Linked DNA regions of Homo sapiens. The protein of the gene in region 7 purifies or fractionates together with the protein of the main gene of each other region. This does not show direct contact. Each region holds a gene or a part of one and is shown on either strand. Other genes may lie near its edges.

Region 1 (3,500 bases), on a different chromosome or scaffold from region 7:
CAGAGTATCCGGAAGATGTCTCATAGAAACTCCCTCTCCATAGCTACTTAAGGAGATAAGGCAGAGATTAAAGATTTTGAGGGGGTCCATTGGTTAGGGCTCCTTGGGATGGGGGACAGCTGTGGAATATGACACAGAGAGAGAGTTGCATAGAAGCTTCTGGAGCTTCTGGACCAATTAATTATTCCCATTTAGGATTTAAAGCAGCTGAGCAGGTTGAGGAGAATTCAGGTTATTTAGTCCAGTGGTCTCTAACCTGCTTTGATTGTGCACCCTATCAGTTTAAAAAATTTTTGAGCCTGCTTCCAAATATATATATGTTTCTTATAAATTATTCGCATCTCTCATTATACCAGTGTGCCTTATAAAAACTACATACACACAAAACAGATCTTAAGATAGTGAATTAAAAATTAAATGGGCCAGGCATGGTGGCTCACGCCTGTAATCCTAGCACTTTGGGAGGCCGAGGCAGGCAGATCACGAGAGGCCATCCTGGCTAACACGGTGAAACCCCGACTCCACTAAAAATTCAAAAAATTAGCCAGGCATGGTGGCGGGCACCTGTAGTCCCAGCTACTCAGGAGGCTGAGGCAGGAGAATGGTGTGAACCCGGGAGACGGAGCTTGCAGTGAGCCAAGATTGCACCACAGCACTGCAACCTGGATGACAGAGCAAGACTCCGTCTCAAAGAAAAAAGTAAATGGAGGCTGGATCCAGTGCCTTGTGCCTGTAATTCCAGGACTTTGGGAGGCCGAGGCAGGATGACCACTTGAGGCCAGGAGTTCAAGACCAGCCTGGGCAACATAGTGAGACCCTGTCTCTATTTTTAAAAAATAAAAGTAAATGGAAATAAAAGTTTTATTTTCTTCCTGCTCCTGAAATTCATGCCTTTCCTTTGCAGAGGACTGTTGTAGTGTCTTGAGGAAGGGAGTGTCCTGGTGTTACTTGCAGTATGGTCTGGCTCCACTGGCTTTAGAATTACCTGGGATATTTATTAAAATGCAGATCATTAGGCCATACTTAATGAATCAATGGAGGTAGGGCCTGGTTGTCTCCATTTTTGATACATTCTTTAGGGGAGTTTTGTACACATTAAAGTTGAGTGCCACTGTTGATGGGCATCTCTCTTTTTCCTTGGTAAGCCTGATTGTCTCTTCACAATTTATCAAACTGATACCTTTGAAAGGGATTCAGGGAGGAATATGAACCCCTACAGTCCTATTCCTTTTGTGCCATAGAGGCAAAGATGTGTATATATGTGTGCATTTTTATGGGAATACGTTTTCTTTAAATTGTCATAGGAGTCTCTGGCCAAAAAAAAAAAAAAAAATTGGTATGGACAACTGATGTGAATTATTATGTAACCTACTAGTTTTCAGAGAAAACCATTATAAGATTCTTAACCCCAAGGCTCTATTGGGCATAATTTAATCTTCTAAAATGATATAGAAAGCGTTTCATTGTAGTGTGAACATTAACTTTTATTTTGTGGTTATCTAAAAGTATTGATTGAACATTTTGGTTAATAGAAAACTAAATAACAAAATAATTCAGTTTGGGGCATTCTAAGGTTGAAGTGTCAGAGGGAGCCATGTGGAGCTGTCCCTTGTAACTAAAAGTTTATTATAATGCATGTATTTGCACGTACTTAAACCAACATAGAGCCATTGTTTAATTGGCCACTCTTATGTAGGAAAAGGGAAGAAAGGAACAATGTGTAAGTAAAAAGTAACCTAATTTAGCTTTATTCTGGGGAGAATGTTTAACAGGCTTTTAAAGAATTAATCACCTTTTTAAACTGAAGAAATAATTTACATTCACAATGATTAATTTAAACAGTACAAAGGTACTGAAAAGTATGCCTTACTTCCACCTAAAATTCCTTCCCCATTTTTTCCAGAAGCAACCACTAGTAATAGTTTTTGTGTATCTTTTTAGAAATATTATTTACCTCGTCTTTTTTTCCTTTGTTCTCCCCTTTCTCCCTTCCTCTTTCCTTCCTACCTAACACCATGCTTCTTTTACCTTACAGTTTCTTAGAGGTTGTTCCATAATATCCATTAGAGATGTACATCATTTCCTTTAATGAGTTGGCATATTCCATCATATAAAGGGATCATAATTGAAGTAAAATTGAGGGATGTTTAATTGTGTCTAGTCTTTCATGATTGGTATTGCAATGACTGTCATTGTACTAATGTCCCCTGAGCCTTTGTAGGGTATATAGCTACGTAATATATTTTTAGAGTCTCTGCACTTATAGAGACTTCTCTATAGGAGACTCCACTTATACCTACTACATACCTATAAGTAGAATTGTTGGTGTGTGCATTTAAAATTTTGGTAGCCATTGCTAAAATGCTTTTCAAGACCTTATACTGATTTAAAGACCTTTTGAGTGCCTGTTCATTCATTCTCATGTCAGCAAGGTAGTACCAAACTTTTTTATCTTTGCCAGTATGATCGATAAAAAATGGTGAACAGAGCTGAATTTGTTTCAGCTATCATTCAGAGCTTTTCTTCATCCACTCTTATTAAATTTTCAGTGACTCTTTTATGAGTTGGACAGCTGTGGCAGTTGGGATGGGGCAGATTCTTTATGAGCCAAGTATTTCTGCCAAAACAACATTGCTTCCCAGGCTTACTAAGTTACTATGACTGTCTTAAAGCTAGCCAGCCTCTGATCTCTACTTCCTAAAGCCCTGGGGTTGGAGTAGGAGTGACTGAAGTGGGGATTCTGAAGAAAAAGGGCAAGATACGGTATTCCTGTCATTGCCGAAGGTTGGCACCAATCCTATAGGTCATTTTCTCCACTCTTCCTTACTCTGCCCTTTCCCCTGGTACATGCCACTGATGTTGTTTGTCAGCGTAGCCATCCTGGAAGTTTGAATTTGTCTGTCAAGCCTGTACACACTAGCATTGTCAGTAAGCTTTGTTTTTAATGTAATACATAACAGCCAAATATTTTTATCACTATAAATCAAATAATGGCAAAATCAGAGCCAGGTATGTTTCTTCCAGCAGTGTCTTCTGGCTTGCCCTCTACACTAGTAACCTTTTCCCAGCTTTATTTTTCTTCCCTGATTTTCCATTTATCCTGATTTTCTTATCTGTTTATTTTATCTTGTATGTGGTTTTCATAAACAGTTTCAAATCTCTTTGAGAAGAAAATGCAGAGTATTACTCAACAAGTCATAGCAAAAATTAAAACAACAGAAAGGGAAATTAAAAGTTGAGAAAATGCATTCATTATCATTTGCTTTGTAGTAGCTCTGCTTTAACTATTTATGTAGATTCCTTCTATTAGTATTTGAACAAATGTCATGAGGTGCTGTGTTCATATTTCTTTAGCTACTCAGTAGACTTGATAGGAGCCACAGCCCTGGGACAATTCTTGGCACAGAGTTGCTCAATAAATAGTGTGTGGGATAAATGGACTATGCATACATTCCATTTGGCTTATTTTTTCCTTGGGTTTTAGAATAGTCAGTTTCTTC
Region 2 (3,500 bases), on a different chromosome or scaffold from region 7:
ATAATCCAGATCACTGAGGTACAGCATGCAATTGACCAGCTTAAGAGAAAACTAGATACTGACAAAATGAAACTCATAGTAGAAGTTAAGGTAATTTACATTTTTCCTAATCAGATTATTATAACATTTATCTTGAAATAAAATATTTTGGTGTTTTAACTTTGGGTGTCAATAATATAAGGGTAGCCAGGATTGACTGTATTAAAATTGTTACCTTAACAGTAAAGAGCATAGGTGAAAAAAAAAATGCAGGAAGAAAAACTAAACCTGTGAAAAGATACATGATATAATAAAGCCAAAGTAAAATTTAGTAAAATTTTACTAGGAAGAATTAAAGGAAAAGGAACCTGTGAGTCAATATATTCTCAAAAAAAATTTTAAGTAGTTTTCCTGTATTAGAATTATTAAGTCTGATAAACCACTGAGCTCTCCTCTGAACTGACATTTAATTTTTTATGGGTAATCGTTTCATTTTTTCTGGTTATTTTCATATGTATTCTATTATTTAAATATGAATAATGTGTCTTCTACTAGATGTTAAGTTTCCTTCCTGGCAGAGACTATGCCTTAGTTAACTTTGTTTCTCCCATGGGACCTTTTGTATAGCAGATGCTTAGTAGAGGCTTCTGGGCATGCTCTATTTGGTGAGAATTGTGTACAACTAATTACATCATAGAAATTATCTGTGAAGTACATATGTATTAAAAAGCTTTTTTGTTGAACAGAAAACAGAAGATTATACATTTTCATACAAGTACCCACAGCAAGGCAGGAAAATGAGAACGATAATTATATGAATGCTCTCATTTCTTTATCAGAAACAGCTTTATGACACAGAATAATGACTGCATTCTAGAATTAGCTCTTTTTAAAAAAATTTTAAAAAGAAAAAAGAAAATCAGTACTGTCCTCGGTTTCAGATAAAAATAAAAATAAATAAAATTTAAAAATAAAAAAATAGAATTAGCACTGTCCAACAGAACTTATGTGATGATAGAAATGTTCTATGCCTGCACTGTCAGATTGGTACCCACTAGCCACCTATTGATATTGAGCACTTGAAATGTAGTTTGTGTGACTGAGGAACTGAATTTTAAATTTTATTTAATTTTAGTTAATTTAAGTTTAGTAGTTACATATGGCAACTGGCTTCTACTATACTGGACAGTGCAGTTCTAGATTCTTTTTACAAGCAGCATTCTCGAGGCTAAATAAGCCCTGGTTTGGCACTGAGAAGCTTAAAACTTAAAATAGAAAAGGAAAAGAGCAGAGGATAATTTTTAACAAAATATCAGTTAAATATGCACTCAAAAAATAATTTGTTCAATGAAGGAAAACTGTCTATTCAATATATGGAGATAAAGCCAATATGTAAACTTGTACACTTAATAATTGGGTAGGTAGGAAGGAGTAATAAAAATGCCCCCAGAGGCTTGGATTATGACTCCCCTCATGCTGTTTTCTTCTGGAAAGCATGCACATTACTTGTAATCTTTGTATATTTTAACATTACAAATGTCACTCATGGTTTGAACTCAAATTAGAATTGTTCATACAAAAACAGTAAGGACAAGTGGAATAAGAGGAAAAAAAGAGAACAAAGTTTTCAGCTTATAGGCTGGGGGGAAAAAATCCTGTATTTAACCATAGTGCCTGATTGACACATAACAGACATTATTTAAGAAGTTTTATTGATTTCTGAATGATCTCCCCAAAACAGCACTACCTATAAGATTCAGAACTAAGGGACAAAAAAAACCCAGCCTGAGTCTCTTGCAACCATATTTATTCAAGATAGTATAGCATAAGTAGTGCTTCTCAAAGTTTAATATATCATCTGAGGATCCTGTTTAAAAATGCAGGATCTGACTCAGTAGGTCTGGGTGCAGCCTGAGATTCTTCCTACCTAACAAGCTCCCAACTGATGCTAATGCTGCTGTCCACAGACAACACTTGGAATAGTAAGGGCTCTGGTACCAGGTGGTTTGAATTTGAATCCTGGCTGTACCCACTTCACTTACTAGTTTTTTATCTTGAGCAAGTTACTTAGCCTCTAAAGGTCTCCATTTCAACTGTAAAATGGGGATAAATACTAGTATCTGATTCTGTAAAATTTTTGAAAAAAAAATAAGAGACTAATACACTTAGAAGAGTGCTTGCCACAGAGTAAACACTATATTTCTGAAATATCTATTCCGTTCCTAAGGGCTAGGAATTAAGGGTTTTTTTTGTATTTTGTTTTCTTGTTGTTTTCACTATTTTCTTTACACATTGAGAACAACAGGTTTTGAAGTTTAAGCAAAACATAAAATTCTTTCTCACTCTAGTTTTTAGAACAGTTCAATTGTATTGTCCCTATCTACTCATAAACAAGGTTACCTTATAGCATATCTCACCAGTAGATAAGCATGCTTATTAAACAGCATTCATAATCTACACATTTACTGTAGTAATCCAGTGGGAGTTGAAAGCACTGAAGCCAAATGAGAGAAGACAGTTAAAGCGGTTACAAAAACCCTGTTTACATGACAACTATGATGTACTTTTAGAAGGGTATGATGAAGTTCATTTTTGAAAAGTAATTCTTTTTATAGATGAGAAAACAAGCAGTTTCAGATTTACGAACATTGAAAACTGAACTGGCACAGAAAAAAAAAATAATACATCTCTACAATCTCAATTAGGTATGTTAATTTAAAACTTTTATTTGTAAAAAAATTTAAATATGTATTTGAACAGATTTGTTTAACCATTATTCTCCTTGGCAATGTTTTATAAAAAGCACAAGGTTTCTCTTTCTCCACTTTCCATGTGGGTATTACAAAATGTTTCAGGAAATATTAGATGTAATATAAAGCAAAATGATGAATGGTTATTTTTAACATTCCAAGTCCTTTACATATTATTTTACAGTGCTAATTTTATAATTTTCATTTTAATAATTTAATAATAAAATTCAATAATAATTTATTTAACAATTTAAGAGCTAATATAACTAAAATCTATTTGCAAAGAATAAATGTATATTAATGAATACTAATATATTTGCATGAAAATACAGACTTCATTTAACTTAATTTGTTCATTATATCTTAATTAAAAGAAATCTGGAAATATAAAAGAATGGGGGTATTGAAGTTGCATTCTGAGCTATGATAGAGATAAGCATCTAAGAATTTAAATTTTTTAATTCATTTATTTTAGAAATATGAAGACAACAGTGATCCAACATATACTATGAAAATGGTTTTTACTCTGTCACAAACAATTGTGTAAATAGGAAATGTAATATTCTCATAACAGATGGTTCAATCATCATGTATTCCAATTTACAGGGGCAAAATGTGCAGGGAAGCCAGGATTTATGTAAATCTAGAGTTCAAAGATACAGATTTTTAATCTGTAATTAGGAACTAATAAGGGCAGCACAATGTTGTTCTTAATTCCCTGGAGAAAGAAAACAGACTTTATTACATTTAGAAAACTTATTTGTATAAAAT
Region 3 (3,187 bases), on a different chromosome or scaffold from region 7:
CTATCGTAAAGTGACTTGGCACTGGGAAGCCTCCATGGAAGCTCAAGGTCTATCCTTTGCTCAAGTAAGGTTATTGGAGGGAAATTTTTCTCTTTGCGTAGAAAATAAAAATGGCAGTGGACCCTTCCTAGGTAATATACCTAAACAATACTGTAATCAAATACTATGGTTTGATTCTACAGATGGCACCTTCATGCCCTCTATAGATGTTACAAATGAATCCAGGAACGATGATGATGATACAAGTGTTTGCCTAGGCACTAGACAATGTTCCTGGTTTGCAGGTTGCACAAACCGGACCTGGAACAGCTCAGCTGTTCCCTTGATTGGTCTGCCCAATACCCAAGACTACAAATGGGTAGATCGAAATTCTGGATTGACCTGGTCAGGTAATGACACCTGTCTCTATAGCTGCCAAAACCAAACCAAAGGCCTTCTGTACCAGCTATTTCGCAACCTATTTTGCTCTTATGGCCTGACAGAGGCACATGGGAAATGGAGATGTGCAGATGCCAGCATAACTAATGACAAAGGTCATGATGGACACCGGACCCCCACCTGGTGGCTCACAGGTTCCAATCTGACCTTGTCTGTGAACAACTCTGGCCTCTTTTTTTTGTGCGGCAATGGGGTGTACAAAGGGTTTCCACCTAAATGGTCTGGGCGATGTGGACTTGGGTATCTTGTACCTTCCCTCACCAGATACCTCACCTTAAATGCTAGCCAAATTACAAACCTGAGATCCTTCATTCATAAAGTAACACCGCATAGATGCACCCAAGGAGACACAGACAATCCACCTCTGTATTGCAACCCCAAGGACAATTCAACAATAAGGGCCCTTTTTCCAAGTTTGGGAACTTATGATTTAGAAAAGGCAATTCTAAACATTTCCAAAGCAATGGAACAGGAATTCAGTGCCACTAAGCAGACCTTGGAAGCACACCAATCAAAAGTTAGCAGTTTAGCCTCTGCATCCCGAAAGGATCATGTCTTGGATATACCGACCACCCAACGACAAACGGCTTGTGGAACTGTTGGCAAACAGTGTTGCCTCTATATAAATTATTCGGAAGAAATAAAGTCTAATATACAGCGTCTCCACGAAGCATCCGAGAACCTGAAGAATGTACCGTTACTTGATTGGCAAGGCATATTTGCAAAAGTGGGAGACTGGTTCAGATCATGGGGCTATGTGCTTTTAATTGTTCTTTTCTGCTTATTCATCTTTGTTTTAATCTATGTTCGTGTCTTTCGCAAATCTCGCAGATCCCTTAACTCCCAACCTCTGAACCTAGCCTTATCTCCACAGCAATCAGCACAGCTCCTTGTCAGTGAAACTTCATGTCAAGTTTCAAATAGGGCAATGAAGGGACTAACAACCCATCAATATGACACAAGTCTACTTTGAGAATATCTGAACAAACAGCAGCTGCAGACAAAAAGCCTTAGCTAAACTTTGATGAGTAAAGCAGGTCTTACCGAGAATTCAGCTGCCAAAACCCTCCTCTGAGTGTTCCTCTTATAAGGGCACTTAGCACTAGGACCTCCCAAGGTATTGTAAATAAGCCTTATCAGAACTTTTTGTAGTTTCATTCTGAAGCCTTAAGACACACACCATAAAGCTGATCTGTAAACCCTTACCCCTTGCTGTTCAGAGAGCTACTCTTTGTAGTGTTCTTGCATGCATATATAATAAATGTTTTTTCTATTGATCTGTTAATTTGCAAGCCCCCAAACACTGGAACTAAGTTGGGGGCAGGATAGTTTCTCCCAACAGCACTTTGTAGGCTTCTGGATAGACCAAAGAGTGTGTTTGAATAGATAAGGGAATTTTGTTCCCTTGATTTTGGTTGAAGGTAGAAGAATCCAATGTACACATACACAAAACTATGTCCTTAAATTTGTCTCAAAGAATAAATATTGGGTAGTCATCAGAATTGACTGAAAACTTACTTTAGGGAGAAAGCCACAAATAATTTAGGCTGGTATGATCTGAGCTTTCCTGATTTCCCATGGGCATTTTAGTGGTCTAATGGAATATTAGTCTGATATGCATTTTAGCCATCTTATGAAATGGGCCGCAGGTGGAAGTAGGATGCAGGGAGTGTTGAGGTGGCATCTATTATATCAAATGCTTCACTCTGCCCAGTCCTCTGGTGAGTTCCTTACATGCATCTTTCTAGTTAATCCTCTCGGTGTTCATATTTTACAGATTAATCAACTCAAAGGGTAGATAGCTTGCTAAAGATTATACTATTACTGAAAAATAGCAAGATGCAGAACAGCATACCTAGTATGTTACTCTTTTTTTTTTTTTTTTGAGGCAGAGTCTGGCCCTTTCACCCAGGCTGGAGTGCAGTGGCTCAATCTCGGCTCACTGCAACCTCTGCCCCCTTGGGTTCATGCCATTCTCCTGCCTCCCTCCTGAGTAGCTGGGACTACAGGCGCCTGCCACCACGCCTGACTAATTTTTTGTGTTTTTAGTAGAGACGGGGTTTCACCGTGTTAGCCAGGATGGTCTCAGTCTCCTGACCTCATGACCCGCCCACCTCAACCTCCCAAAGTCCTAGGATTATAGGTGTGAGCCACTGCACCCAGCCTCGTATGTTACTTTTTATTTTAAAAAAGGGGAAATGATATGTATATGTGTATGTATTTGCAAATAAAACAGGAAAAGCCATTCACAATTGAAAGTGATTCACATGTAAGAGGAATGGACTGTGAGATTCTCACCTCCTTTTTAAGGTTGCACATAAACAAATTTATGAACATAGCAGATTGATAATTTATTAACAGAATAATCATTTCAAGTTACATTAAGAAAACATGGATGGCTGGGCACGGTGGCTCACGCCTGTAATCCCAGCACTTTGGGAGGCCAAGGTGGGCAGATCACGAGGTCAAGAGATCAAGACCATCCTGGCCAACATGGTGAAACCCCATCTCTACCAAAAGTACAAAAATTAGCTGGGCATGGTGGCAGGCACCTGTAGTCCCAGCCACTCAGGAGGCTGAGGCAGGAGGATCGCTTGAACCCAGGAAGCGGAGGTTGCGGTGAGCTGAGATCGCACCACTGTATTCCAGCCTGGCAACAGAGTGAGATTCTGTGGCAAAAAAAAAAAAAAAAAAAAAAAAAAGCACAGACTGGGTGTGGTGGCTCATGCCTGTAATTCCAGCACTTTGC
Region 4 (3,500 bases), on a different chromosome or scaffold from region 7:
TTTAGGCATAGAAAGGGAAAATATTATTCAAAAGTGTCATCATTCATCATTTTAGATAAGTTAATACTGGGATTATTTTTCCATAGAGCTTTGTGTTTTAAAAATTATGTCATAAGTATCATGTCAATCAAGATCCTAAAACAAGTATTATTGAAAGTTTGAGATCAGGAAACTCGAATTCAACAAGGTTAATAATAAGAAATCTATATATATATGCTGTGTGTGTGCATGCATGTGTGCATGTGTGCGTGTGCTGTACATGATGAGCACATAGGTGTCTATCATTCTGGTTAAATATTAGAAAGCAAGCAGCAAAGTAGCCCATCCTCTTCTTTGGAATTAGAGAAACCAATGAAGTACTGTATCAAAAATTAGGGGGAGAAAGATTAGAAGTAATAAATGGTAAACAAAGTACAACACGTCTCTAACACATAGATAAACCAATAACTACTTCTATTAAGAACATGAAAACTTGGTGTTTTACCTAGATTAGAACAAGATGCAGAATTTAGCAGACAGTGATACGCTGAATAACCCTTGTGCCCTCCTCCCACAGCACTGGCTCAGACAACCACGAACAATGCCCCATCACCCCTTTGCTGTATTTCCTTTTCATTCCATCTCCATTTCCATTTCTGTGGTGGTTCAGTCAGGCTGGTGGGAAAAATTTTAGTTTTAATAGCCACAAACCTTGTTGGAAGGTCTGAGGGTTTGCATAACTTCAGTAATAAATCAGTCTGAAGGCAGCCTAGTCCCCTTATCTTTAGTTAAATAAACTAGAGTAGAAATAAAGGAATGTGGAGAGTTTACCTAACTAGCTTGTTTACTCGTGTGGTCCTAAGACTAACCTTTGATCTACCATGGGTGCTTAATTGCTTTCTACTTGGGAAGTCCACAATGTCAATTACACTCTAGTGGTGTTGACCCAAGCCTTTGTCAATTAATCTTTACTGAATAAACATAAGTCTTGCTGACTGATTGAGACCATAGTCGCAACTGTTTACAGCACTGTGCGTGGAGTCTGTAAGCGGCCCAGATGCTCAGCTGGACTGGTAAAGCAGAATATCTGTGTGTCAGTGTACTTTATTCATCCATCGTTGGGTCAGGGTCTGTGGGACAGACCCCTGCAAATTTCTGGGGAGCTATTCTGTATCTAGCTATTAGACTGCTGAAGAAACCAAGGTCTTGGGATGATGTTCAGATGACCAACACCTGGAATGGCTGCATGTTCTCTAAGGCTAACACATCTTCCTGGGCTTTGTCAGTGACTTGGAGTGTCACTACTACTCATAGGACAATGACTATTTGTTTAACCTATATAATCAGATAACAACTCTAAGCCTCAGCTTTCTTGTCTGTAAAATAAACTAACTAGCTGATTTCTAAAGTGCTAAGACCTTGCCACTACAGGAATTCTACATCCAAGAGATGTCTTGTTTTGTATTTCCTGAGGGCATGTGAATCTTTTGTATCTAGTAGCTTTGCACCTTTCTTAATGTCTAATTGTTAATTATTTAAACAAAGTGCATATAGCCAAAAAAAAAAAAAATAGAGAAAATGGCCACATATTTTCAGTAATTCCTACAGTCACTTTCAAGACTCTCACATCACTAAATGAGGAATAAAGGAGACTTTGAACTGCATAAACCCACAAATATAATAAGCTGCATTATCAAAAGTGTTTACTTGATGATGTAAGAAGTAAGAATACTGCGAGAGAGTGTAGAATCTGCAAGGTTCTACCTACCTCCTGGCCGTTCATGCTCTCCATCAGTGTGTAAAAGCATGGCAATAGGCATCCCTACGTTCTTGGATCTTCCAGCCACAACCACATTTTTTCCAAATGTTTGAATTCCTTAAAATACAGAGTTCGGTTTAAATGCAGAATTGACAACAAGAAGTAAATTAAACATTTGTACAGCCAACTGAAACATTCTTTTAAAAATTTCTAATTAAATCTGAATTATTATGTGGCTTATCTATAATATGAGCACATTCATTATTTATAAATAATTCATTTTATGCTTCTTTGATTTGTCACTTCTTCTCTGATTATGTACTCATTAAAAACCACAGACATTCTTAAGTTGACATTAAGTTGCTTTTAAACATTGAGAGTCACATTAAGAGTTAGAAGAGTAGAGTTTTAACATATATTAACTGCTTATAAAAAAAGCAAAGTACAACAATGTCGAACTTAATTGGCAATCAAATTTTGAGCAACGCTGGAACAAAACAAGTAAGAAAAGAGGCATTTTTCACAAAGCTCATGCATTTTACTCCATAGGAAAGAAGCACTAAACTTACAGACTTAGAAAGATGTAAAAAAATAAAGCCTGTAGAACCTTCTACTTCTTTTGGACTCAGTTTCTTCATAAGTAAAGCAAAGAAGTTAGAACTAAGGATTTTCCAATACTAACAGTGTAGGAGTATGATTCTAGGATCTGTTTTCCCTTGGAAGTTTTTCTTTCTCAGAAAGAAAACTTCTTTTGTAAGAGTCTGTGAGAGCATTACCGTATCCAGTACAGTACAAGGGTAAATGTTTAAAATTAAAACCCAAGCCAATAGAAATGATAACTATGTGATCAGAACATATTTTTAAAGGTACAGAAAAATATATTTTAGAAAAGTTTTCATCAAAATGCATGAAGTTTACATTTTAAAGGCCGACATATACCACTACTATGTGGAAAATTCACTTCCTATAAGTTGCAACTGCAGTTATCTATAATCTGGCTAATGCTCTTCGTTTCATTTTATTTTGGATTTTTTTTTCTGTTTGTTTTGTTTGTTTTGTTTTGTTTTTGAGACAGAGTCTTGCTCTGTCGCCCAGGCTGAAGTGCAGTGGCATGATCTCGGCTCACTGCAAGCTCCGCCTCCCAGGTTCATGCCATTCTCCTTCCTCAGCCTCCGAGGTAGCTGGGACTACAGGTGCCCGCCACCACACCTGGCTAATTTTTTGTATTTTTAGTAGAGACAGGGTTTTACTGTGTTAGCCAGGATTGTATTATGTTTTGACTTCTACAATTTTATATCTCTCTGTACACTGACGTTTTATGGATTATGATTTTCTGTCACTCTATAGGACTGAGGTAGTCCCATCAAGTCTCAGTGCACAAAGGCTCAGCTCAGCACCTAGCATCCATGTCCTGCAGACCACAAATTACCAACCTGTTCTTTTTATTATTTCCCAAACAGCACTGGCAGTGGCAGGTATGAGAGAATGCTGATCAAGGCACAATCTTCCAATATTGATAATATGAAATCCATCTACATCTTTTTCTGGGGCAATTCCATTGCATATTGTTCGCTCATCAACGTGGTCTGAAAAATAAATAAAATTTGTCTAATTTTAAAATTGTTATTTATTTGGTAGCCTGAAAAATGAAATCTGAGAATCTAAAGCCACATCACTTATAATTCGGCTCTAAAAAAGGTGTAAAGTCATTATTATTATTATTATTATTATTTGCCACCAAAATAGTAAGCCAAAGTGCTCT
Region 5 (2,751 bases), on a different chromosome or scaffold from region 7:
AAAAGATAATGTACTCAACCAAAGGTATTATATGATGAAGTGACATTTTTACGAATGGGAGAAGAGACAGTTTACTCAATAAAAGATCAATGGGTAGGCATATTTAAAAAAACAACCAAAGTTAGATTTCTAATATGTTTAATACATTCCAGCTGGGTCAAAGATCCAAAGGTGAAAAATAAAATTATAAAAGAAGACAAGTGGAGGCCAGGCGCAGTGGCTCACGCCTGTAATCCCAGCACTTTGGGAGGCCTAGGTGGGCAGATCACCAGGTCAGGAGATCAAGACCATCCTGGCTAACACGGTGAAACCCCATCTCTACTAAAAATACAAAAAATTAGCTGGGTGTGGTGGCGGGTGCCTGTAATCCAGCTACTTGGGAGGCTGAGGCAGGAGAATCACTTGAAACCGGGATTGCACCATTGCACTCCAGTCTGGGTGACAGAGCGAGACTCCGTCTCAAAAAAAAAAATGACAAGTGGAGAAGGCCATTCTAAATATGATACAAAATCCCAAAAGCCACAAAAGCAAAGATCTGTAAATTTTGTACTAATATTTTTAATTGACAAATCATAATTGTATATACTTATGGTGTACAAAGATTCATAAATTTGCTTACATGAAAATAAAAATTTCTACATATCAAAAAATACCAGAACAAAGTCAAAAGACAAATGACAATGACAAACTGGAAAGAAGATATTTGCAGGATCTCTTACAAAAAGCTAATATCTAAAGCACACCTGTAATACAAAACAAAGACCAACAACCAACAGAAAAATAGGCAAAGAATAGAAATAGGAAAGGCCATGGTAAAGCAGATTCCAGTGGCTGTTAAATACATGAAAATATGCTCTACGTTACTCATAAAAAGAAAAATAAAAATAGAACATTTTTATCTGTTAGGTTGGCAAAGGATAAGAAGACATGCATTGATGGTGAGATTATCAGTTAGTATACCTTCTTTAGAGGTAATTTGTAGTATCTAGTGTAATTTTGCTAAATATAGTCTTGACTCAGTAATTTCACCTCTAGATATCTACTGTTAAGTGAAAAAAAAAAGGAAAAAGAAGCAACATGCAGAACAATGTGTGCAGTATGTTACCGTTTGTGTAGGGGGAAAGGAATATATACATTTGTTTATAAATTTGTGGCCAATCTCTAAAAATGCGTAAGCAGGTGGTTTCGGTACTTGCTTCTTGGAGGGGGAACTGGATGGCAGGGAAGAGGGAAAGGACAGAGACTTCACGATCACTGTTAACCCTTTTGTACCATTTGAAGCTTTTACCCTGTATATATATTACCTATTAAAATAAAACAGTAACAAAATCAGGTACATCCAGGGTTTACATCCCGTTAAATACTCCAAATACTCCCATTAAATACATCCAAACAATCCCATCAAATACAAGTAACTCATCGAGCACCATCAAATGCTCACATACAACTATTTTATGATACATATTATTACAATATTTTATATTCTCTATTATTTAAAGGAACATAACTGTTACAGTATTTGCTTCAATTCTTTTGATACTTCCACTAAATTGTTAGAAATTGTACAAAGGCCTAAATAATAACCATTTTTGAAAATATGTGATTTTATAATCATTGGCATTTTATCTTAAAATACACTACATTCTTACAAAATAATGAAAAATTGGTAATTATTATTATTTTATTTTTATTTTTTTGCGACACAGTCTCACTCTGTTGCCAGGCTGGAGTACAGTGGCGCAATCTCAGCTCACTGCAACTGCTGCCTCCCGGGTTCAAGCGATCCTCCTGCCTCAGCCTCTGAGTAGCTGAGACTATAGGTGTGCACCACCGCGCCCAGCTAATTTTTGTATTTTTAGTAGAGACAGGGTTTCACCATGTTGGCCAGGATGGTCTCAATCTCTTGACCTTGTGATCTGCTTTCCTCAGCCTCCCAAAGTCCTGGGATTACAGGTGTGAGCCACTGTGCCCGGCCAAAACTTGGTAATTATTAAAACTGTTTCATTTAAAATACATAATTATGATCTTGTAATATATTTATATGTATCTCTAGAACACTATTTTTAAACTTTTTGTTCAAACTGCTCTTGGATTCATATGGGTTTTAAGCCACTGATCAATTGCATTTTCATACTTCCTTGGTTCCTTCTGCCAGTCTTGGTGCCACCTAAGATTTGCTATAACGTTTGAATAATTCTGTCCTATACTTTGTTTCCACTTGATAAACTGCTCTTTATTATACTGGTGGACAGAAGCAGAAACTTTAGGGTAGTTTATAATGGAATGAAGCTTCTGATCCAAAGAATAAGTAATTTCTGGAAATTTTACAGCAACATTTGTTAATTCATCTGGATCCGAGGAAAGATCTGAAAGAAAAAAAATAAGTATCTGTCAAAATAGTGACCTGCTAAAAATTTTTTTAGAATGTCATTATGACAGGTAATGTATTAGATTTTTTTTTTAGATTTTCAGTTCCTGTTAGTGTAGTAAAATGAAGGACAGTATAAATGGTAAAATAACATACCAGGAGTTAAACACCCTATGTTGCATGCCCAAATTCCCTCCTTCCTACCATTGTCCAGCTATCCCACTTTTTTTTTCTTTTCTTAAATGCCAGAAAAAGTCAAACTTTTATCATTAGTAAGCTGGTTTAGAACAAGTTCTTCCTGTTTTTGATGTCCTGCCTACTTTGACAGGCAGAAATGAATACAGTAATGCTTATACTGTACCATTTTAACAGCCTCAAACTTT
Region 6 (3,500 bases), on a different chromosome or scaffold from region 7:
GTTTTCAAACTAGCTATTAGTTACTTACCATTGGTATCTGGTTTGATTTTCTCTTCCTTAAGATGCAAGTTGCTCAACTAAATGGAGAATATGGGGGAGGGGGAAAGTGTCAGGAAAAGCACTTAAAAAGATTTGGAATCAACAGAGCCTCCCTAATGAAGCTGGGGATAAAATAGCCATTCTCAAGGTATATTCATTAGGACCAATTCATTGGGTTGTTCCGTTTACTAAATGTCTGATGAGAATAAACAAAATTTCCCGTAAATACATCGGTGGAAAAAAATGCTCCAAATCTGTACCTTCTACTTAAAATTCTGTGAGAGAATTGTAATTTGTGAGTTTGCTTAATGCCCTGATTATAAACTTTCTCTCTTTGTAGAATATCATTAGAGTTGTCATTCTCTCATATTTCTTTTGTGTGTGGGGGGGAATCGCTGCATTCCAAATCATATTTCAAACAAGAGGAAATTTAAAGAGATTTTGAAAAATGCAGTCATACTTTGGAGAACACTGGGAAGGGAGGACTGTGATGAAAAGCATCTGTAAAGCCAGGTGCGGTGGCTCGCGCCTGTAATCCCAACACTTTGGGAGGCTCAGGCAGGCAGATCACGAGGTCAAGAGATCGAGACCATCCTGGCCAACATGGTGAAACCCCGTCTCTACCAAAAATACAAAAATTAGCTGGGCGTGGCGGTGCATGCCTGTAGTGCCAGCTACTTGGGAGGCTGAGGCAGGAGAATCGCTTGAACCCAGGAGGCGGAGGTTGCAGTGAGCCAAGATCACGCCACTACACCCCAGCCTGGCAACAGAGTGAAACTCCGTCTCACAAAAAAAAAAAGAAAAGAAAAGAAAAGAAAAGCATCTGTGGGTAGGAATCAGTCATACTGCAGGATACGTTAGAGCCGTAAGACCACAGTATGCTGATGTGCAGCCTCACATTCAAGTCACCTTTTGCTGGTGTCTGATACTGTAGTTGGGAACAGCCTGAAGCATTGTGGCACACTGTGTAATTAAAATACCCACTGGGCTGAAGTGGAAATAGAAAGGAAAGAGACATTTCAAAGAATAATTACTAAGACTTTGATCAAATACTGTATATTAGGGATATCCTAGCAGGTCTTATCTCCTCTATTAGAATGCAAATACCTTCCTGACAGGGCCTATTTCGTTTTCTACTGCTCCTTGAGGAGCAGGGCTACCCCACAGGAAATGTGCCCAGAGTAGCATATTTCTATTTTTGGCCTTTGGATGTAGTACAGAGCAAAGTAAGTGCTCTAGTCGTAAATTTTTTGTTTGTTTGTTTTTTGAGACAGAGTCTTGCTCTGTCACCTGGACTGGAGTGTAGGGGCGCGATCTCAGCTCACTGCAAGCTCTGCCTTCCGGGTTCACGCCATTCTACTGCCTCAGCCTCCCGAGCAGCTGAGACTACAGGCGCCCGCCACCACGCCCGGCTAATTTTTTGTATTTTCTTTTTTTTTAAGAGATGGGGTTTCACGGTGTTAGCCAGGATGGTCTTGATCTCCTGACCTCGTGATCCGCCTGCCTCAGCCTCCCAAAGTGCTGGGATTACAGATATGAGCTGCCACGCCCGGCCTTTCTAGTCGTACATTTTTATTAAAAACAAAACAAAACAAAAAAGCCTTTTTTTTTTTTTTGAGACAGAGTCTCGCTCTGTTGCCCAGGCTGGAGTGCAGTGGCCTGATCTCAGCTCACTGTAAGCTCCGCCTCCCGGGTTCATGCCATTCTCCTGCCTCAGCCTCCGGAGTAGCTGGGACTACAGGCGTCCGCTACCACCCCCAGCTAATTTTTTTGTATTTTTAGTAGAGGCAGGGTTTCATCATGTTAGCCAGGATGTTCTCAATCTCCTGACCTCGTGATCTCCCTGCCTCGGCCTCCCAAAGTGCTGGGATTACAGGCATGAGCCACCGCACCTGGCCAAAAAAGACTTTTTTAAAGGTCAGAAAGCATCTGTAAGTCTTGGACCCCAGCACAGGGATTAGATAGATGGAAAGTCTGGCGTGAGTAAGTAACCTTTCAAGCTAAAGCCAACCCTAATCATAAAATATCAAGCAGGGCCTAAGACATCATCTAGTAAAAAGAAAATGAAAATCACAACCTAATGGTTCTTTCTTTTTTTTCTGCAGACGAGGTCTCACTCTGTTGGCCAGGCTGGAGTGGTGCAGTGGCATGATCATGGCTCATTGAAGCCTCAACCTCCTAAGGCTCAGGCAATCCTCCTGCCTTAGCCTCCCAAGTAGCTGAGACTACAGGCACTCACCACCATGTCCAGCTAATTTTTTTTTTTTGAGGCGGAGTCTTGCTCTGTTGCCAGGATGGAGTGCAGTGGTGTTATCTCAGATCACTGCAACCTCCGCCTCCTGGGTTCAAACGATTCTCCTGCTTCAGCCTCCCAAGTAGCTGAGACTACAGGCATGCACCACCATGCCCAGCTAATTTTTGTATTTTTAATAGAGACAGGGTTTCACCACATTGGCCAGGATGGTCTCAATCTCTTGACCTCATGATCCGCCCACCTTGGCCTCCTAAAGTGCTGGGATTACAGGCATGAGCCACTGCGCCCAGCCTGCCCAGCTAATCTTTTATTGTAGAGTTGGGATCTTACTGTGTTGCTCAGGCTGGTCTTGAGCTCCTGGGCTCAAGCGATCCTCCTGCCTCAGCCTCCCAAAGTGCTAGAATTATAAGTGTGAACTACGCATTAGGCCGCATTTCTGTTGTCCCTCTAAGTCCAAGAACAGGCGAAAGGGGAAGGAGGGTAGAGAGGAGAGAACAAAAAAATGTTTTAATTGGTGGTTTGTTGAGAATGGAGGAGCCCCATTTCTATTTCTCTTTTTTTTTTTTTTTTTTTTTGAGACGGAGTCTTGCCCTGTCGCCCAGGCTAGAATGCAGTGGTACGATCTTGGCTCACTGCAACCTCCGCCTCCTGGGTTCAAGCAATTCTCCTACCCCAGCCTCCCAAGTAGCTGGGATTACAGGCGTGTGCAACTACGCACAGCTAATTTTTGAATTTTTAGTAGAGACGGGGTTTCACTATGTTGGTCAGGCTGGTCTCGAACTCTCGACCTCGTGATCCACCCGCCTCGGCCTCCCAAAGTGCTGGGATTACAGGCGTAAGCCACTGCACCCAGCCAGGAGCCCCATTTCTTTTTGTTTGTTTGTTTGTTTTGTTTTTTGAGATGGAGTCTCGCTCTGTCGCCCAGGCTGAAGTGCAGTGGCGTGATCTTGGCTCACTGCAAGCTCTGCCTCCCAGGTTCACGCCATTCTCCTGCCTCAGCCTCCGGAGTAGCTGGGACTACAGGCGCCTGCCACCATGCCCGACTAACTTTTTATATTTTTAGTAGAGACGGGGTTTCACCGTGTTAGCCAGGATGGTCTCGATCTCCTGACCTCGTGATCTGCCCGCCTCGGCCTCCCGAAGTGCTGGGATTACAGGCATAAGCCACCGCGCCCAGCCTCCCATTTCTATTCATGGAAATGGACAA
Region 7 (3,500 bases):
TTCCTCTAAACAAACTGTGAACTATTAAGAAGTGTTTAATTGCCTAAGCACCACAAACATAACTTCAAGAAATTGTAATGAACAAAAGTAAAGAAGAGAAAAATGGGAAAAAGAGAAAAAAAAAACAACAAAGAAGGACAAGCAATCACAGAGCTATTCGCAACTATAGGTATTCACTTTATAATTTTTTCAATATTTCAGTGGTCTACTTTTGGACTTATCAAATAAATTTTATAATCCCTAAAGTCAAAAACAATAACTTTTACTATCTATTTCTCTACTCTCCTCTATCTCACTCACCTCAAACGCACACATACACACACATATGTACACACTGGCACATAACAATCTGTGAGGTGTAGCAGATTTCAGATGTGCTATAGGAGTTGGCTTTCTAACATAATCACTTGAGAAACTGAACCCCCCTCTTCCTGGAAACATTATAAGAAAAATATCAGATGGTCTAGGTGTTGAGAACTCACCTGTCACATAAAGAGTTGTTGAGTGGCTTTCAATGAGATTAGACTGAAAATTTGCAGAACAGCGGTATGACCCATTGTCATTAGGAAGCACTGGTTCAAAATGTAGAATGAAAAATGAAATGTTCTTCTCTTCCTTCCAACTTGTTTGTCTATCTTCAAGTTTTACACATGTTGTTCCATTGAGCTTGCACCAAGTCACATGAGGCCTGTTAGCACAGTATTTCACAGGGCATTCTAGTTCAAAGGGATCTCCTGCTAAGATGGAGTGTTCAGATTGTCTCTTTATATAAAGCTGTACATCACATGATTCTTTCCCTAAAAGATAAAAACAAAACTAAAATCAAATATGTTCTTCTGGAAGTACCATATATATGTGACTTCAATAGTTCTCAAGCATTATTTGGTAATTTTCAAAAACAACCCCCCAATTTCTAGTAATTAAGCCTTACTAGCAGAATGTCTCATACATATTAGGCATATAATAAATATGTTTAAAAAATGAAATAAATCATTTAATCCTCTGTCTGTCAGGCCTTTGAGCCCAAGCTAAGCCATCATATACCCTGTGACCTGCACGTATACATCCAGATGGCCTGAAGCAACTGAAGATCCACAAAAGAAGTGAAAATAGCCTTAACTGATGACATTCCACCATTGTGATTTGTTTCTTCCCCACCCTAACTGATCAATGTACTTTGTAATCTCCCCCACCCTTAAGAAGTTTCTTTGTAATTCTCCCCACCCTTGAGAATGTATTTTGTGAGATCCACCCCCTGCCCCCAAAACATTGCTCTTAACTCCACTGCCTATCCCAAAACCTATAAGTACTAATGATAATCTCACCATCATTTGCTGACTCTCTTTTTGGACTCAGCCCGCCTGCAAGGTGAAATAAACAGCCTTGTTGCTCACACAAAGCCTGTTTGGTGGTCTCTACACACGGACACATGAGACACTGTCTTAGTCTGTTTTCTGCTAGTATAACAGAATACCTGAGATTGGATAATTTTTGAATCACAGAAGTTTTATTTGGCTCATGGCTCTGTAGGCTGGGAAGTCCAAGAGCATGGTGCCAGCATCTAGCAAAGGCCTTTGTGCTGCATTATCTCATGGCAGAAAGCAGAAAGTGGAAGGGAGCACACAAGACAGAGAAAAATGGGGGCCAAAATTTATCCTTTTATCAGGTGCCTACTCCCGTGATAACGAATCCATTCCTACAATAAGGGCATTAATACATTCATAACCTCTGATCTCTTAAAGGTTCCACCTCACAAAACTGTTACAATAGCAATAAAATTTCAACATGAATTTTGGAGGGGGCATTCAAACCATAGCATTCTGCCCCTGGTCCCCCAAAACTCATGTTCTTTTCACATACAAAATACATTCATTCCATCTCAATAGCCCCAAAAGTTTTAATTTATTGCAGAATCAATTCAAAACACTAAATTCAGAGTCTTATCTAAACCAGATATGGGTAAGATTCAAGGCACGATTCATTATGAAGCAAATTCCCTCCAACTATGATCATGTAAATCAAAACAAGTTATCTACTTCCAAAATATAGTGGTAGGACAGATATAAGATAGATATTCCCATTCCAAAAGGGAGAAATAGGCAAAAATGAGAAAGTAACAGTTCCTAAGTAAGTCCAAAACCCAACAGAGAAATAAAATGGCATTGCTGGGCTTGGTTGATGCTTCAGCACTCACAAGTTGGAGACTCCTACCTGCAGCTCTCCCAGGCTAATGCTTCAGGCTAATAGCTCCACAGTTCTGGGGTCTCAGTGGCAGTCCACTCCCATGGCTCTACTAGGCACTGACATGGGAGTGGACTCTTCCTGGGCCCTCAGGCTGTCCACAACATCCTTTGAAATCTACATGGAGGAAGTTGTGTTCCACACCTCTTGCATTCTGCTAGCCTGCACACTTAGCAAGTGGGTGCCACCAAGGCTTACCAATTGCACCTTATGGAGTGGTGGGTTGAACTGCACCTGGGCTCACTTGAGCCATGGCTGGAGCAGCTAAGGAGCACTGTGCTGGAATTCAGAGAACAGAAACCTGAGGCAGATCTGGGCAGCAAGCCTGTAAAGGGCATTCTAGTTTCCCCTGAAATCAATTTGCCCTCTGAGCTCTGAGCCTATGATGGGAGGGGCAGCCTCAAAGGCTTTGAAATGCCTTCAGGGCCTTTTTCTCAACTTCTTGAATAGTACTTCACTCCCTTCTATCCATATTAATCTCTTTAACAATGGTCACTAGGCCACACCCTTAGTATTTTCTCCCATTCATGCCTTTTCACTTTTTATATGGCTAGGCAGTGAATTTTCCAAATCTTTCTATTCTGCTTCTCTTTTAATTATAAATTCCATTTTTAAGTCATTTTTTTCCCTCCTGCCTCTTACTGTATGCAGTTAAAAGTAGCCACACAGCAGCCTAAATGCTTTGCGGCTTAGATATTTCTTCCACCAGATATCCTGAATTATTGCTCTTAATTTCTGCTTTCCGTAAAGTCCTAAGACATAGATACATTTCCACCAAGTTCTTAGCAACTGTATGACAAGAATGGCCTTTACTCCAGTTTCCAATGGCTTGTTTCTCATTTCCTTTTAGTTATGCACTTGGTGTTGATTTGTATTTTTTTATTTTCCAGTAAAGTTAAGGCTAAGCACGTGATCCTAAAAGTATTTTCTTTTAAATTATTTTTTTCTCCACTCTTACAGTTCTTTCTTAGCCTTTCTTTCTATGTTTTGAACTACCGTCTCTCTTAGCAATGTCTAGTTCATCTCCTTCATTTATTTATTTCACTCATTTTCATGCATTCTTCTGAATAGATGTACAGTATCATACATTAGAATGACATAAGTGTAACAGAGATGATAGCCAAAACTCTCTTTTAAATACAAAGACAGCTAAAGGCCTTGCCTGTGATCACACAGCTTGTCAGATGTTGAACCAAGGAGCAAATTTTGACCCTGAGTTTCTCATACATGTCTATCCAGAACAAGGTTTCACCTTATTT

What was found.
Region 1: the proteins of BTLA (region 7) and RPP30 purify together in Homo sapiens (affinity purification with mass spectrometry; one large-scale study listed by BioGRID and IntAct). This does not show direct contact.
Region 2: the proteins of BTLA (region 7) and CTBS purify together in Homo sapiens (affinity purification with mass spectrometry; one large-scale study listed by BioGRID and IntAct). This does not show direct contact.
Region 3: the proteins of BTLA (region 7) and ERVMER34-1 purify together in Homo sapiens (affinity purification with mass spectrometry; one large-scale study listed by BioGRID and IntAct). This does not show direct contact.
Region 4: the proteins of BTLA (region 7) and MTHFD2L purify together in Homo sapiens (affinity purification with mass spectrometry; one large-scale study listed by BioGRID and IntAct). This does not show direct contact.
Region 5: the proteins of BTLA (region 7) and ARSK purify together in Homo sapiens (affinity purification with mass spectrometry; one large-scale study listed by BioGRID and IntAct). This does not show direct contact.
Region 6: the proteins of BTLA (region 7) and DDX19B purify together in Homo sapiens (affinity purification with mass spectrometry; one large-scale study listed by BioGRID and IntAct). This does not show direct contact.

Annotation. Positions count from the first base shown.
Region 1 is NC_000010.11:90,881,974-90,885,473, forward strand, and holds part of RPP30 (ribonuclease P protein subunit p30), read left to right. Parts: intron 1-3,500. UniProt on the Homo sapiens protein: Component of ribonuclease P, a ribonucleoprotein complex that generates mature tRNA molecules by cleaving their 5'-ends. Also a component of the MRP ribonuclease complex, which cleaves pre-rRNA sequences.
Region 2 is NC_000001.11:84,550,441-84,553,940, forward strand, and holds part of CTBS (di-N-acetylchitobiase precursor), read right to left. Parts: 3' UTR 2,685-3,500; coding exon of another isoform or gene 2,595-2,684; 3' UTR 91-2,594; coding exon of another isoform or gene 1-90. Other genes in the region: SPATA1 (spermatogenesis-associated protein 1), read left to right, coding at 1-90, 2,595-2,684. UniProt on the Homo sapiens protein: Involved in the degradation of asparagine-linked glycoproteins. Hydrolyze of N-acetyl-beta-D-glucosamine (1-4)N-acetylglucosamine chitobiose core from the reducing end of the bond, it requires prior cleavage by glycosylasparaginase.
Region 3 is NC_000004.12:52,742,053-52,745,239, reverse strand, and holds the end of ERVMER34-1 (endogenous retroviral envelope protein HEMO precursor), read left to right. Parts: coding exon 1-1,411; 3' UTR 1,412-2,687; downstream 2,688-3,187.
Region 4 is NC_000004.12:74,199,618-74,203,117, reverse strand, and holds part of MTHFD2L (bifunctional methylenetetrahydrofolate dehydrogenase/cyclohydrolase 2, mitochondrial), read right to left. Parts: intron 3,325-3,500; coding exon 3,172-3,324; intron 1,856-3,171; coding exon 1,748-1,855; intron 655-1,747; exon of another isoform or gene 485-654; intron 1-484. UniProt on the Homo sapiens protein: Bifunctional mitochondrial folate-interconverting enzyme that has both NAD/NADP-dependent methylenetetrahydrofolate dehydrogenase and methenyltetrahydrofolate cyclohydrolase activities.
Region 5 is NC_000005.10:95,602,852-95,605,602, reverse strand, and holds the end of ARSK (arylsulfatase K precursor), read right to left. Parts: intron 2,367-2,751; coding exon 2,077-2,366; 3' UTR 501-2,076; downstream 1-500. UniProt on the Homo sapiens protein: Catalyzes the hydrolysis of pseudosubstrates such as p-nitrocatechol sulfate and p-nitrophenyl sulfate. Catalyzes the hydrolysis of the 2-sulfate groups of the 2-O-sulfo-D-glucuronate residues of chondroitin sulfate, heparin and heparitin sulfate.
Region 6 is NC_000016.10:70,309,186-70,312,685, reverse strand, and holds part of DDX19B (ATP-dependent RNA helicase DDX19B), read right to left. Parts: intron 78-3,500; coding exon 29-77; intron 1-28. UniProt on the Homo sapiens protein: ATP-dependent RNA helicase involved in mRNA export from the nucleus.
Region 7 is NC_000003.12:112,478,973-112,482,472, forward strand, and holds part of BTLA (B- and T-lymphocyte attenuator isoform 1 precursor), read right to left. Parts: intron 798-3,500; coding exon 483-797; intron 1-482. UniProt on the Homo sapiens protein: Inhibitory receptor on lymphocytes that negatively regulates antigen receptor signaling via PTPN6/SHP-1 and PTPN11/SHP-2. May interact in cis (on the same cell) or in trans (on other cells) with TNFRSF14.